Regions from separate parts of the Homo sapiens genome. Here region 1 is linked to region 2. Evidence: fine-mapped expression QTL. Tissue or cell type: whole blood. Region 2 holds a variant in brackets; the other region holds the start of a gene. All regions are shown on one strand. Distances are between the middles of the regions.

Region 1 (8,086 bases), 150 kb after region 2:
ACAAGAACAACTCCAGGCCCTCAGGAGGTTGCTCCGTGAGGCAGGCGATGAGTGAAGCCACTGAAGGAGGGAAGAAAGGAATGAGTGACTGAAACTGACACATGCAGTCCAAGGACCTTCTTCCCTTCAGCTGAGGAGGCCTTGGTCTGCTCCCACCCCAGGAGACTGGTCCCCTACCCCACTGCCTGTGCCCAGCTAAGTGGACCCATCCTCCGCCTCTCACCTTAAGTCCCATTTTGTCACAGGAGCACAGGAGTTTCCTGACCATCCCTCCCCACTGCAAGTCTGATCTCTTGCCACCTTCCTGCTCACCCTGTGACACACAGAGGATGCCTGTATTCAGGGCAGGCAGCACGACATCTGCTGAGTTCACCACTGAGTCCCCAGAGCCTTGTACGGAGCCTGATGGAGCCGGTGCTCAATCCCTGATGAATGAGGGATGGAGTAATGAGTCAATGAAGGGATGGGGCAAAGGTTTCAAAGTCCAGACAAAAACAAACAAACATGAATCATTTCTCCGAGGAGGGGATGCAAACGCAAATGTCAAAAGTCCAAGTGGGCCGTCGGAGGTGTGGCTGGCTGTGGGAGTGGTGAGGGGCTCTGTGGGAGTGTCCGCCACCTGACTCCTGCCCATAGCTGCCTTGTAGGCAGGAACAAGCGCTCAGAGTTACCAGAGATTCTCATTTTTCAAGGAAATCAGGAACCAGGCTTTTGAGATTTTTGAGTGACTTCCTGATTTTTCAATATTGACCATCAATTCTTTTGTTTTTTTCCTCAAGAACACGTGCGGATCCAACCCAACATATCTGTGGACTGAATCCAGCCCGCAGCTGCCAGTCTGTGCTTAAGCTCCAAAAACATGACGGTATCAACTCTCCTCGCTCAATGTCTTTATTGGAAGATATATGAGCAAAAAGAACCACAGTAACTGCTTGCACAACCAGAACCATGTTCATTTGTTCTCCAAAGCAGCCTCTAAACAGCTGCATACATCTCCCATCAGTCTTCCAGAACAAATCCCTCTGAGCTCCTAGGGAAGAGCCTCTTCTCCTCTGCAGGCCTGCCCACAAGCTCACCCTGGGAGCTCCCTAATCTGTCCAGCTCTCTTCTACTCCCTACCTCCTCGTCATCTCTAGAAGCACTGTAGAGTTTAGAAAGCCTCCCCTGCATCCCAGCTTGTTCCTGGCCCTCCAAATTCAACCTTTCTCCACCAGGCCTCACTTGACAGGCCCCCACCAGCCCAGCAAGTTGTCCCTGTGCCACCCTCTGGCCCAGACTGTCTTGATTCCCCATGGCACTTGGGACCCCCAAATGTGAGGCCTATGACCTTGTGTATTCTCTGAGGATATACATAGGTATGGATGAACCCCTCAAGGCCCTGCCCCAGCCAGGCACTGCTGCATGAGAAAGAAAATGTCCCAAAGAACAGCAATGACTCAAAAGATCTCCCCCAGGGGTTAAGGAGAGTCCTGCACACCAAGGAGGTATCAGGCAATGCAAGGGGGCGGGATGAGGAACAGGCCAGAGCTGCACACTATGCGGGATGTGAAGGGGTTTCCTGTTTACCCAAAAAACCCTGGATGCCTTAAGCACTGAGAACTAAAAACGCTGGTTCTTCTACTTTCAGGGAGAGGAGATTATGAACATATTTAAGCAACGTTTCTGTTGCTTTGAGATAACAAAACAGCAAAACTCCAATCACAACAATTGTTTGCCTGGTGTCAGGCTCTGCCACCACTTCACCTAAGGGCCTCTCCTCTGAATCAAATACTCCTCTGGAGACTGAATAGTGGGAAGTCCATTAAAAAAACTCCAACAGAAATCTAACAAAATGTCGTCTAAATGCAAAGGGAAGTTCACTGAGAATAGCCAGCAGAGACCACCAGGAAAGGTCATCCTCACTCCAGGCGCGCCCCAGTCTTCCTTGGCAGTTGTAATCTTTCACTATGATTCCTATGAACTGCAGCAAAAGACCTTCTGCAAGGAGGCTGGACTTCCAGCCAGCTCCACATCTGCAATCCCCAATCTGCAGGCGAGGTCCTGACCCTGGTCTTGCCAATCTCAGAACTCTTACTTTTTCTGCTTCTCACAAAATGCATCTTCCTCCCACACTTTCCGCAGCTCCTGGTCAGCCCCTTCCCCTCTCTCCTCTTTCTCCCTGTCTCCACCAGGTATATATCTCAGCCCTCTCTTCAGAGCCTAGCACAAACACTGTCCCCTCCAGTGTCTTCCTCATTCCCGCACTCATGACACCCCTCTCTCACCTGTGTCCATGGCAGCACGGTCGCTCGGTCTGGCAGCCTGGGTAGCTTAGAAACTGTGCTAGGTTAGACAAGCTTCTCTGGGAGCAGGCACTTTCATCTACAACCCCCTAGCAGAAGGCGGTGCCCAGAAAAGGCCCAAGGACAAACTATGCTGAAATGAACTGGCCTCAGGTCTTTCTCCCAAATAGCAGAGAACTCAAATGAAGAGTCATTTCATTCCCAGCGGTTTGGGCAGCTCATGGGATGACAGGCAACTTTTTCCTTTTTTTAAAAAAAGAGGCCCAGCGCGGTGGCTCACGCATGTAATCCCAACACTTTGGGAGGCCGAGGTGGGCGGATCACGAGGTCAGGAGATCGAGACCATATTGGCTAACACGGTGAAACCCTGTCTCTACTAAAAATACAAAAAAATTTGCCAGGCGTGGTGGCAGGCGCCTGCAGTCCCAGCTACTCGGGAGGCTGAGGCAGGAGAATGGCGTGAACCCAGGAGGAGGCGGAGCTTGCAGTGAGCCGAGATCGCACCACTGCACTCCAGCCTGGGCAACAGAGCAAGACTCCGTCTCAAAAAAAAAAAAAAAAATTTTTTTTAAAGTAGCAATGAGGTCTCGCCATTTTGCCCAGGCTTGTTTCAAACTCCTGGGCTCAAGTGATCCTCCTGCCTTGGCCTTCCAAAATGCAGGGATTACAGGCGTGAGCCACTGTACCTGGCTGACAGATGATTTCCAATCCGGTTCATTTTACTTTTCTGTGATTTCCAAGTTTTGACAATGAACATAGAATATTCTTATATTATAAAGATATAAAACATAATATAATCTTATATTAGATATAAAAAGATATAATATAATCTTATATATTATAAAGTTCTTATAAAAGAACTCAGTGAATGTTCTTTTTAAAATAAATTATCCAAGTTTCCCAACAGTACCGTTCTGACAAGACACTATACAAGAAGTTCCTGAGAAATGCTGCACAGATGAACCCAAGTTATTTCTGGAGCAGCAGGTGTACAGGATGGCGACTCATGGTCACTCGGCAAGGCTGTGGGGGCTCAAATTCAGTGAGAAAAATACTCAAGAAATGGCACCTGAACCCAAGCGCCCTGCCCCTGAGAAAAGCACCCTGGCTTCTGGTCAGAGGGCCAGGAATGAATATACTAGGGGCCTGCCGCCCTCTTGCTGTCTGGACAGCCGGAACTCACTGAACCTCTCTGAGCCTGTAAAACTGGGACCATATTCTTTCCCACAGACTAGCTTCAAAAATTTAAGAAGCAATGCATTTTAGGTGCTAAGAGTTAGATATATAGTAAACCCTCAATAAAGCCTACAAAAATGTCCTTCTGTGCTTCAACCACAGCCTGCAAAAGTCATATTGCCTTGTGGGTCCGCTGCAGGGGTGCACCCCACAGAAGTATCCCAGATTCAACCCAGGAAACATAAGCAACTTCCACAATCAAAGCCACAGACCTCCTTTGCAGCTCCCTAAAAATCTGCTTTCCCTCATTCAGCCGCCAAGCTAACCTGCTACCGGGGTTATGACCACAGGGCATGCTCCCAGTACAGGAGCCCAGGAGCACCCGCCCACTTCACCTTAGACCCAAGAATTCGCATTTGCCCTGCAAGGTGCTGCAGGCTAATAAAGCCTGGGGCCCCACAGGCTCGACAGTCATTGAATCTTTGGAGACTCTATTTCCAGGACAGGCAAACCCAGGGACTCGGAAGGTAACTCCCCCAGATTTCTAGGAACACACAAAGAGACGAGGTCTGCATCAAGATTTACCATCTACTCCAACCCACCGGTCCCCCACCTGCCCTCCTTGCAGAGCTGAGCTTGATCGGGGTGGGGAGGGGAAACTTGACTACCTCCTCAAAATACCCCCACTCATCCAGCCTGCTTCCTTTGAAGCAACCGAAGTGGACGCTTCTCGTTAAACTCGAAGCTCGTTAGAAATGACACATTTTACAGCTCAGCTGGGTTCACCCTCCTAGCGCCGAGCCCAGGCCGGGCACCGATCGCTGCAGCCGCAGCAGCACGCGGCCCGGGCTGTTCTTCCCCTGCTTGGGGCTCGAGCCATTTTCGGAAGTTCCCGGGGACCGCGGAGCGGCTAGCGCGCCCGGCCCCGGGTTGCAGGGGCCCCGCCCGGCCCGGCCCCTGGCGCCCCCGCAGCGGCCGCTTCCCCCCGCGCCCGGCAGGCAATGGGCCTGGAGGAGAAGCTGCCAGGCGCCCCGGCGAGGCCTCGGTGGCTTCACCCCGCCCCGGCGCACGGAGGGCCGCACATCCCGGGCGACCCGCGCTCGGCCCGGGGAGCGGCGGAGCCCCAGGGCCGGGCCCGGCCGGAGGGAGCCGCCCCACGCCCGCGCCTCACCTGCTTTCTCGATCTTGCCGGACATTTCCGGGCTGCGCCGGAGGCCGAGGCCGCCGCTCATCGGGCCCGGGCCGGGCCGCCGCGGGGCGACAGGGGCGGCGCGCCCGCCGCTCGCCTCGGCCCTGGCTCGCCACGCCTCAGACCCGCGCCGGCATGGCGGGCTCCGCGCGGCCGCGGCCCTGCGCTCGGCGACCGCGCTCCAGCCCGCCCGGGCCCAGCCGCTCCCGCCGCGCCCGCCGCCGCCGCTCCGCCTCCCGCGCGCCCGCCGCCGCTCCCCCGGCCCGCGAGCCGGCCGCAGCGCAGCGACGCCGCCCGCCCGCCCGCCGGGCCTCGGCCGCGGCCACGGCCACAGCGCCACCTGCCGGGCGCCCGCCGCGCCGCCACAGCGCCCCCTGTGGGCCCGGAGCCGCCCGAGCCTCCCGCGCGACGCGCGAGACGCAGCGCCCCCTGCCGAGCCGGAGTCCCCACGCCGGGGCCTGGGGCCTGGGGTGTGGGGCCGACCCCGCCTGGGACTCCGCATTCCTCTGCTGTGGGACCAGAGTCACCAGCTCCAGACCTGGGACTGACAGCTCCAACCCAGGGTCCTCGGTTGCCCAAGAGCCTGGCCTGCCCCCTCACCAGAGACACAGAGAACCCTCCTGGGTCAGATTTTCCACCCCAGGACGTGGAACTGACGCCCACCCCACCCTAGCATCATCCCGGACCCAGCATCCCCTGTGGGCCAGAGGCTCCACACCAGGGCCTAGAACTCACTCTCACCAGGACTCAACAAGCTCTGCTGGCTGGGAGCCTGTCCTGACCTCCCCCAAACCAGAGATGCAGCACCCCCTTTTTTGTTTTGTTTTTTGTTTTTGAGACCGAGTCTCACTTTGTCGCCAGGCTGGAGAGCAGTGGCGCGATCTCGACTCACTGCAACCTCTGCCTGCCGGGTTCAAGCAATTCTCCTGCCTCAGCCTCCTGAGTAGCTGGGATTACAGGCACATGCCACCATGCCCAGCTAATTTTTGTATTTTTAGTAGAAACGGGGTTTCGCCATGTTGGCCAGGCTGGTCTCGATCTTCTGACCTCATGATCCACCCACCTTGGCCTCCCAAAGTGCTGGGATTACAGGTGTGAACCACTGCACCCTGCCCGCACCCCCTTCTTAATTGGAGACCCCACACCAGGGCCTGGGAGTGGCCTCATAGCACCTCCTGCCAGCCCAGAGGCTCCAGCCGGGGAATGAGTCCACTCTGGCATGAAAGCCCTCTGCTGGCCCAAGGTCTATGCCAAGGCGGAGGATTCATTCTCCACCCCAGCCCTGCATGTGGGACTCAGTCACCCTGCCAGCGAGAGCCACCTGTCCCGGGCTGGGGTTGGCCCTACTCAGGCCTAAATGTCCCCTGAGGCCTAGAGCCTCCATGCTGGCCTGGGCCCAACTCCCTCAGGGACACAGCACACCCTGCCTGCCCTGCTTATTTGACATCCAGAAGGGCACCCTGGGGCTCAGCTGTGGAACTTTTCTAGTGTGGAAATGAGTTCATTAAAAGTCGTGGCTGGGCACGGTGGCTCACGCCTGTAATCCCAGCACTTTGGGAGGCCGAGGCAGGTGGATCACGAGGTCAAGAGATTGAGACCATCCTGGCCAACATGGTGAAACCCCATCTCTACTAAAAATACAAAAATTAGGTGGGCATGGTGGCACACGCCTGTAGTCCCAGCTACTTGGGAGGCTGAGGCAGGAGAATCTCTTGAACCCAGGACATGGAGGTTGCAGTGAACCGAGATCATGCCACTGTACTCCAGCCTGGTGGCTCCAGAGCGAGACTCCGTCTCAAAAAAAAAAAAAAAGTCGTGGTTGGGCACAGTGGCTCACGGCTGCAATCACAGCACTTTGGGAGGCTGAGGTGGGTGGATGACTTGAGCCCAGGGGTTCGAGACCAGCCTGGGCAATGTGTGAAACTCCGTCTCTACTAAAAATACAAAAATTAGCCAGGCACGGCGGCACCTGCCTGTAGTCCCAGTTACTTGAGAGGCTGATGAGGGAGAATCACTTGAGCCCTGGAGGCAGAGGTTTCAGGGAGTCATGATTGCACCACTGCACTCCAGCCTGAGTGACAGAGGAAGACCCTGGCTAAAAAAAAAAAAAAAAAAAAGGAAAAAAAAAGTCATTTAAGAATCAAAGGATCTGCTAAGTCTAAGCACTATTTCGGGTTCTGTGGGCCCTACAAAAGTGGGCACAATTGGTGCTTCCCTCCAAAGAGTTCACAACTTAGCTGGGAAGTCAAAGTTAAATCCTATAATACAAGTAGTAAATAACAACAAATTAGTAACGCAAGTGATGTTCCAATGTGGGGCAATTCTGCTGCCTGCTTCCTGTTGTTAGTCTAAGATGGAATACAAAGAAGTAGCACGCACCACCTGGGCTAGTTTTCCCTCCTGTTTCCCCCAAAATAAGTAAATTAAATAACCTAGTGATGGGGACAGGATTTGGGGGAGGTGCAGGGAGGAGGAAAAACTGCTAATGTTGTGAGAGATTCTTATTCCCATCTCCCTGGACAGTCTAAAGGGTCACCGATTCCACAACTAAGAGCTAGTCAGGCCGGGTGTGGTGGCTCACACCTGTAATCCCAGCACTTTGGGAGGCCGAGGTGGGTAGATCACCTGAGTTCAGGAGTTCGAGACCAGCCTGGCCAACATGGTGAAACCCCATCTCTACTAAAAATACAAAAAATAGCCGGGCGTGGTGGTGCGCGCTGGTAGTCCCAGCTACTCAGGAGGCTGAGGCACGAGAATCACTTGAACCTGGGAGGCAGAGGTTGCAGGGAGCCAAGATCGCGCCACTGCACTCCAGCCTGGGTGACAGAGCGAGACTCCCTCTTTAAAAAAAAAAAAAAGGAGATGGTCATAGATGGCAGCCAAATTTCCCATCATCATTTCATCAGTTGCAGCCCTCTAGAGGTCAAAGGCAAATCCAAAGATTGACAAATTCATTTCCCTCTTCCACCTGATGAATGGATGCTCTGATCCAGGGTGGCCCTGTTCAGCCCTCTTGGCAGATGCCTTACCAGGCAAAACTGGCCCCTGGTCCCAGGCCCAACCCCAAAACACACTCAATGCTGCCCCCAACCCTTCTAGGCTTCTGAGCTGAGAAGAGCCGATATTTTAAATCCAAAATCCTGGTTGAAAAGTAGAAAACTAGACTGCATGGATACTAGGTGCAGTCAGGGGTTTGTGAGAACACAAATATATTTAATAAATTATGACATATCCAATGACAAAAGATTTGCAAACAACAAAGTACTTTGCAAATGGACATTATGGTAAATCAGGGTCACAGAACTTACTTAATAAAGGCTATTCATCAAAGATGTTTATAACTATAGTAGAACACACACAAGGTAATGAAGCAAACGGATTCCCAAAGCCCAGTTCTGGCTGACTTGGAACCTTCTCATGAGCTGCTCCTGCTGTCTAG
Region 2 (8,098 bases):
TTGGCGCTGGACAAGCGCCAGTGACTGTGCTGGGGCCTGGGCTGCAGGGACAAGTCCTACACGAATCCCGCCCTGGGGAGCTGCTGCTCCCATTGGGCAATGAGACACCAAGACTTCCCGGCCTCTCAGACTAGATGCTCCCCAACTTGCCCTGCTGAGCACTGTCCACACGTGGCCATTTCCCAGCCGCACAGCCACTTACCATGGTCATCTCCCCCAGCAGGAGGAAGGCAGTCCGCCTGATGGAGATTTGTTAGCGGAACGGATATGGCCAAGTGCCATGCTGTCAGATGGCCAGCCATGGAAACACTGAGGAGCGAGGGAGAGGTGGCCTCTCCCATTCCAGCCTCCACACAGCCTCCACCATGGCTGGCGGCTGAGAGCACGGCCTGCTGGAGACTGGACCTAAGATACCATGGGAGCAGGTGCGTTGGGCGGGTTCTCTCCTGAGGGTCCAGGAGGGACCTCATGAGGAAATCCAGGGCCTGGGTGCAGGGTGGAGAGACACCTCACCCATCTCACCCTGGTCTATCGGGCACAGGCCATTCTCTCAAAGGACCAAGATAGAGCAGGCAAGAGCCAGCTCTGCCCAGAGCCGATGGGCAGGAGAAGCAGGTGGAATGGAGCCTTTGCCTCCCCACTGGCCCCCAGGACCCCAAGGGTGAAGCACTCACCAGAGCTCATCCACCACCCGTACCAGCACGAAGAACGTGTTCTTGCTGACGCGCTTCTTGAATGTGTCGGCAAAGGGAGAGAATTTCTCATATGTGGAGCACGGGTTAAAGAAATAGCCATGTGGTCGGCTGAGGGTGGTGGAGTGGAGGACTGACTCCTGGTGACCACTCACTGAGCGCTCACAATGTGCCCATCTTCCTGCATGTAAAGCACTGGCATCCAGAAACGAGGGCACGGGACTAGCGCAGTGGAACAACTGCAAAGCCAGGATTTGAGCACAGGCGTCTGTCCCCAGGGATGCCCCCGGCTGCTGCCCTCTCCTCCCTGCCACGCCATCTCCGCTGCACTGTCCAGACCCGCCTTTCCATCGGGTTCACCCCGAGGTGCCCATGAGATTACAGACACGTAGAGAGTGCCTTGCTGAACTTTAGGTAGAGAACGGTGGGCCCAAACCAAACACCCTCCAAACCCCAGGTCCCTAGGCAGGTGTGTAGGCCAGAAGTATCTCCCTCCAGTCTTTCTGTGAGTTTCCATCCTGAGGCTGCCTCCCTGGGCTCTGCAAGGGAACTCTCACCTCCGTGACACCGGGCCGGGTCTCTCTTCCCAGAGCTGCAGCACGCTCCACATTGGCTCCCTGTCTCCAGGGCAGCACTTCAAGCACCCGATCAGCTCTAGCTCATGCCCTGAGGTCGGGCTCTGCTTTGTGGTCAGGGTTTCCTGCCCGGCTGTTGTGCTCGCCATCGACTCCCCAGATCTCTCTGACACCCTCCTGCCTGCTCTCTAGTGATCCACGACCTTCCAAGTCATGGGGCTCAGGACAGAGCAACGTACCAGGGACTGTGTCTTGGCCCACAGCACAGGGGTCGCCAGCCAACCAGGCCCAGACCTTGATGCTGCAATATTTCCATGATGGCTGAGCCAGGCAGAGGCTGAGAGCCTGGGCGCAGGCAGCAGGGGGCAAGCAGCGTGTGGCTGCTCTCCCACCAAGCAGCCACATGGGTCAGGTCCTTCATGTCTCTGGGCCTCGGTTTCCTCAATTACACAATAGGGAGTTATAGAGCAGTGGCCCCATGTATAATATGGTAATTTTATACACACCCACACACACATATTAAAAAATGGTCATAGAGCTAGGGCTAGGTGAAAGCACAGGTGTAAAGCACATCTCGCCTGACCAGCAAGTCCTTGACACGTGTGAGTGACAGCCATTCACTGAGTCAGGCCTGTGAGCAGGTGCTCTGAGTAACAGAACTTGCCGGGGACCCGAGGCTCCGCCAATGGAGGATGTCCACGTCTGTCTTGATAGATCAGGGATTCTAAAGGTCAACACGAGGGGAGAATAGGAGGCCAGGAGGTCTGCAGGAGGCCCTGAGTGGAGCAGTGAAGGCTCAGGGCACACAGGAAGGAGCGGGGGCGCGGGTGGACTCAGGACTTCCTACCCCAGGTGGTGGTGGCTGCCCAGCAGATGGCAGCCGTGGGCTATGTGCAAAGAGGTGGCTGAGGAGCAGCTGACCCAGGCTACCCTCCTAGAGCAGCAGCTGCAGGTCAGCCTCTTAGGATGGGCAGGTTTGGACTTGAAGAGGCAATGGGTCACACAAGTGGGTCCTTCCAAACCCCTGGGGTCCTCCTCAGCCACTACTGCAGAGGGTGACATTTACTGAGGGTGGGCCCATGGGGTAGATCTGGGGACAGGAGCCCATTCCAGTTGTGGATGTGGCAGTCGCAGGGTCCGCTCCAGGGAAGGTGACTGTGCTGACCCCTGAGCTGTCTATTTGGGTCTTGGTATCCTTCGTGCCCAACGCCCTGGGGCTCAGCTCTGAGAAGCTGCCGGAGCCGACCATGAGGGTCTCTCAGAGGCGTCTGCAGGACCGGCACACTTACCCCTCCCAGTCTGGGGCATGTCTAATTCGTTTTTAGAATCATCCAATGACCACAACTGCCACCAGACACACATTCCCAGACTATGTTCCAGCCTCTTCACATCATTTCACTCGGCCCTTTTAGAGATGAGGAACTTGCCTGAGCTCAAAGCTGGAATGCGGGAGGGTAGAGGTGGGAACCTCGGTCCATGGGGCTCCTGTGTCCCTACTTCAATCACACTGCCACCCAATATGCTGCTCGGCTTCCCCCACGAGGACTGAAGGGCAAGAGGGTCCCTCTCTCTCCAAAATGCCCATGGTGCAGGGGCCCTGGGTCAGGAAGGAAAGGATATCTGTACTGCAGCTTCTTGATGAGCTCCTCTGGGGAGATGAAGGTCCTGTAGGTGGTCAGGAATGCCTCGCAGTACAACACCAAATCTAGAGGGAAAAAACAATGCAAACTGCTTGTCTGGGTGCAGAGTGCTGGGGGGTGGTAGCCAGGGTGGATTTGAGTCCTTGCTCTGAGAGAGGCAGGGGAGATGGCACGGGGAGTGGGATGGGCGAGGGAGCCGAGGGCTTGGGAACCCCCTCTGGTGTCTCCGCCTGCATGTCCCAGAGAAGTCACACGTCCTCTCTGTCCATCTCTCAAAGGAAACGGCAGATCAGAGAGGGGAAACAGGAAAGGGTTTTATCTCATGGGCACTTTCTACCGATGATGGTGCTGCCTGGAGAACCGTGCTGTGGGAGCTGAGGCCAACTCTGGTCCCAGCGGAAAAGGGCACTTAGGCTGACGAGTGACGCCTGCCCTAGGCATCAAAACCCGGTGGCATGCCTGTTCCAGGTAGGAGCCAGCCCTGGATTAGACTCTGAGAGGCTCTGCCTGTCCTAAGGCTTTATGCTTCAGAGGGTCTCAGCCATCATGGGAACAAAGAAAATCGTCTGTTCAAACCCGTCAGCAGGATCCTGAAATGAAACCCTAGGCTTTACTTTTATTTTTAAATTTTTATTATGATTATTATTTTCGAGACAGGGTCTCACTCTATCACTCAGGCTGGAGTGCAGTGGTGCGATCTTGGTTCACTGCCACCTCTGCCTCCTGGGTTCAAGTGATTCTCCTGCCTCAAGCCTCCCGAGTAGCTGGGACCACAGGCACGCGCCACTACGCCTGGCTGATTTTAATACAGACAAGGTTTCACCATGTTGGCCAGGCTAGTCTCAAACTCTTGGCCTCAAGTGATTCACTCAGCTTGGCCTCCCA[A/T]AGTGCTGGGATTACAGGCGTGAGCCACCGTGCCTGGTCAGTACTTTTAGATGGTAGGGTCCAATCAGAAAAATCCGGGGAAATTCCACGTTTTGGGTCCTAAGGGATAGGCTGAAGAGGCACGGCTTGGGCCGGGTACCAAGGAGAGGCATGGTGCCAGCCACTGGGCAGGTGTGGGCTGGCAGCTCCAGCTTACCCCTCACCTCTCCATGCCTGCCTCCTCTTAGAGGGGGCTGGTACCAGTCAGGGACTCCCAGACTTTCCAGAATTACAACAGCCCTATTTATTTGCTGTGGTGACACCTTCTCAACTGTGCTGTCTCTGATATTACAGAATGAAGTGGAATTTTAAAATGTAGGACACTGCCTGAGCCAACGGGTGGCCAGACTCACTCCCTGCAGCCACCCCCCGTGCCTGCTGAGGTGTGAGGCCCAAGGAGGCTCCGCAGCTGTGCTTCTCACTGTGAGGCTGGGTGCAAACACGCACTGCTTAAATCTTGTGCTCTGGACATAGACCACCTGCTCCCACCTTCTCCCTCATTCCCGAGCTGCTGGGTAGAGGAATCTCGAGGAACCCACATCTCCAGCTGAGTCATGCTGGCTTGGCTCCTGCCCCCACCCTTGCCCCATCCCCTCTTGCATCAAACGAGAGGAAAACCCACGCCTGCTCTTGCACTGGGGGCTGCGTGGGGTGGGGCTGGCAGGTGAAGGAGGCTCCGGGCTGGGAATCACAGCAGGGCCCATCCGCACTGTGCTCAGGCTCATTCCTCGGCCCCCACACCCACCCAGTTCACTGTCAAGCTTGGATTTTTGTTCAAAGAGTTTGGGGAAGGAAGCAGAGATGGCACCAGCATAGACCCATACCTGCTTCTGGAAGAAGGGGCCCAAGTCAACTGGCCTTTGCGGGTGCATCATTGCCAGTAGCCATGACAACTTCGTGGGACTCGCTGGTGAGCACTGGGCCATGCCTTGAACATATGCCACATCCTTCAATGCCCAGAGCAATCCCACAAGGACAGAGTCCTGTTACCCTACCGAGAGAGGAGGAGCCCAGGCACGAGGCCACACCACCCGCAAGCAATGTGGCGGGGTCGGCGCCCATGTCTGCCCAATTCCAGAGCCCTCCCCCATCTGCTGTGCCCTGGATTATGGCAGATGGGACAGCGCCTGGCTTCTGGGACGGGCAGTGCTGTGCCACCCCTCTAGAGATCACAGGACTCTCGATGCGGTCCTGAGCACTCTGTGCGCCCTGGCTCACCTGGTCTTTGAGACAGCCCTAAAAGGCCCCGAAATTGTCCCTCATTTTCCTCCTAAGGAATCGGAAGCTCCGGGGCTAAGTGACAGGCTTGGCACACAGTTGTCAAGGGATAGACAGGATCTAAGCTGAGGCCTGAGGCCAAGGCTGACCTGACCTTCTCCCATGCAGGTCCTGACACCTGAGAGCAGAGCCGTGCAACCACAAAGCACCCCCACACGGCCTCTCCCTGCCAAGCCCTGCTTGGCAGGCTGGGCTCCACGGGCCTGAGCCACGGGGCTCCCAGCTGCTCGTGATGCTGGTGCAGTCTCTGGCTTGCAGGATGCACCTGCCCAAGGAGCTTGCTTTGTTACCTGCCACAGGGTGCTTCACCCTCCCAGTGGAGCCATGGCTTCTGCCTCAGTAATACTTCCTACGTAAAACTTTGGTTCTGGGGAGCCTCCAACCCTTCTGCTAGTAAAATCAGGCAAAGCTCCCACCGGCACGGAGCGTCCTCTCAGCAGGTCCAGCCAGCAAAAGCCAGAAGCCTCTTGGCTGTCCTGTCTCAGGGACCCCTCCAGCCTTGGCCACAGCTGGCTGTACCCGACAGGACAGTGGAGTTCACCCTTTGGAGCCGAGGTCTGAAGCCAGCTCCCATTTCAGCCCCTCGCTGTGGACAAAAAGGAAATGAAAGTCGCTCCCATGCCTGGCTGAGTATGGAGCCCCCTATGTCAGGCAGGGAGGGGGATTCACTGCAGAGAAGCCAAGCAAGGGCTGCACTCGGCGCTCAGGATGCTGCTGATCACGCCCCCAGCACCGCTGACATGCGGGGCAGGTTTCACACTCCCTCACGTAATCCACACAACAACAGGCACCGTTCACCCCTTCAACAAGTGGAGTCGGCTCAGGCCGAGAAGCCCGGGGACTGCCCAGGGGCCCTCTGAGCCTGTCATGGCACAGCTGGGGCTAGGATGCAGCATCGCCAGGTCTGGGCCCTGCCCTGGTCAGAACAAACAAAGGGTGAGGGAACAGTGAAGGGGAGGGCGGAGCAGTGGCTGCGGTGAGTTTGTGGGAGCCATCTCTTCTTTTTCTCTAATTTTCTGCAATGTAAATATTTTTTAGTACTACTTCCATAATTCAGAAATTCCCCGAGTCACTCTGGGTCACATGTTTTGGGAAACGTGCTGAGGAAACACAGGGACAGAGTCCCTTACAGAAATGAAACGGGTTGGGCTAGGATTTCAAGGTGGGGGTGTTTTCATTCCCTCCACAATTTACTTCACCATTGCTCTGACATCATCTTTTAAATCATTTTTTTAAACGTAAAAAGAGAAGCAGCGTGTGGAGAGACTGGCCGGCCAGGTGGTGCTGGCCCCTTGAGGGCAGGCAGTGAAGGGTGCTGTGGCCATGCCCCATCAGGTCACTAGCACCTCCTTTCCAGAGCATGACTGGGAATGACTTTGCTAGCAGAGTCCACCCAACAAGACGTTTTAGGGATTAGGGGACGGTCCCTGCTTTTCCAGCCCTCTCAATCAGCACACTGAATGCGTGGTAGGGTGGGGCAGCTGTGTGCTGTGAAACTGAGGCCACTGCTACAGAATTGAAGGTTCCTGGACAGAACAAACCTTCAAGAATTTCCTCGTGGAGTATGTGAGTGAAGTCCGGTCTAATGGTCTGCAACAATAGAGTGACTCAGCAGTCAGGAAAGGAATCAAAAGGTACCTGCATGTTATCTTAAGTTTAGTACTACTGGGTGACATGCCATCACTCAAGGCGCTGTCTGTGGTGCGCTTAGTATGCGCTGAGCCCCTCAAGGACCCTGGAGGCCCTGGGGTCACTACCTTGTACCAGCGGAGGACAGATGCCACGCACGCCTGGAGTTGAACATGATCTACTTGTCTTCCAAGGTGGGCTCTCCCTGCTCTGACTCAGGCGCACCAGGACTGCTGATCAGACCTGCTCAGGGCTGTGGCTGCCAGGAGGGGACAGGATAGCGGTGGGAGGCCGAGTGGCACCCGGGGCAGGACCAGCCCCAATCTAGTGAGCTCACTGACACCCTACCTTTCCTGTCAGTCTCAGTAGCATGGACCAGTAAGATGTCCCCAGATCCTCCGCGGACGTCCGGCCCGTCATCACCCTGTAATGAACACAGCCAAGGAAGGTATGAGGCAGAGTATGCCCTTCAGAGAATCAGTTTAGGAAGAAACAGGCAGGAATGAGATGACAAAATGCCCTGCAACCCCAAGTCCCCTCTCCTTCTGTGCTCCTCGGCCCAGGAGCAGTGTGGCTGCGCTGCGAAGCCAGGGGTGCCCTCCAGACTCACCTTGTGCTTGGTGACAGGCACAAACTGGACTGTGTCTGGGAGCTGGATGGCCTGGGAGCTGCCCCGGCACCAAGGCACCAGGGCATGCCACTGTTTTGAGCACACAACTTGGGCCAGGGGACATAGCACCTTCCATCCTTCCTTGCTCACCAAACCACAAGTCAGAGGTGAGGTAGGACCCCCTGGGGGCAAGACAGTCCCCAGCCTTGCCCAGGATGCCTGTGGAGGCAGCAGGACTATTTCTAAGCATGTTCATGTTCCCCAAAACTGCAGCAAGCGGCCCTACATCTAAATCCGTCTCCCCAGGTGGAAGTAGAAGTTACTTGCATTGGCACAAGGTTCTTCTGTGGGGCCCTTCCTTAAAGGAGAGCAAAGCATTACAGACAGAAATATTCAATGACTTCTGACGCTGCACACCTGCCACCAACCCACCTGCCTCTTAAGAAGCAAGTCTTGCTTCCATGTGGGCAAACAGAGGCCACCCAGCGTAGAGCCAAAAAGAGCTGTGACTAGGGCCAGGAACAGAGGTCCAGGACAACCCCCCAGGCCTGTTTCTGCCCCTGGCCCTCAATGCTCCTTGCTCTGTAACGCTGGAGGGACGGAACCAGCCCTCTCAGCTGCGGTACACACTCCGGGACTAGCCCACCTTTTTATTTTTAGGCTTTGGTATTTTACCTCCTGACTCCAGAGGCCTGAGATTGTCTTGGGTTTACCTCTAGGAGTAGGAACTATGCCTTTGACCTGATTTTA

The links. PIP is the estimated chance that this variant, and not a neighbour inherited with it, causes the effect.
Region 1: RAPGEF1 starts here. The variant in region 2 is fine-mapped to the expression of RAPGEF1 in whole blood (TOPMed, PIP above 0.99).

Annotation. Positions count from the first base shown.
Region 1 is chr9:131,735,141-131,743,226 of GRCh38, forward strand. It overlaps RAPGEF1 (Rap guanine nucleotide exchange factor 1), which reads right to left and starts at 4,936. Exons shown (of 27, transcript NM_001377935.1): 1 at 4,630-4,936. The coding sequence starts at 4,690. RefSeq lists enhancers at 1-85, 382-676 and silencers at 382-676, 4,320-4,649, 4,700-4,749, 4,900-5,159.
Region 2 is chr9:131,589,212-131,597,309 of GRCh38, forward strand. RAPGEF1 (Rap guanine nucleotide exchange factor 1) reads right to left here. Exons shown (of 27, transcript NM_001377935.1): 17 at 7,087-7,162; 18 at 2,888-2,972; 19 at 675-767. Among named protein-coding and RNA genes, the nearest start is that of PRRT1B, 48 kb to the left of the region's middle. RefSeq lists an enhancer at 139-638. The variant A/T (reference allele first, on the strand shown) is at 3,793.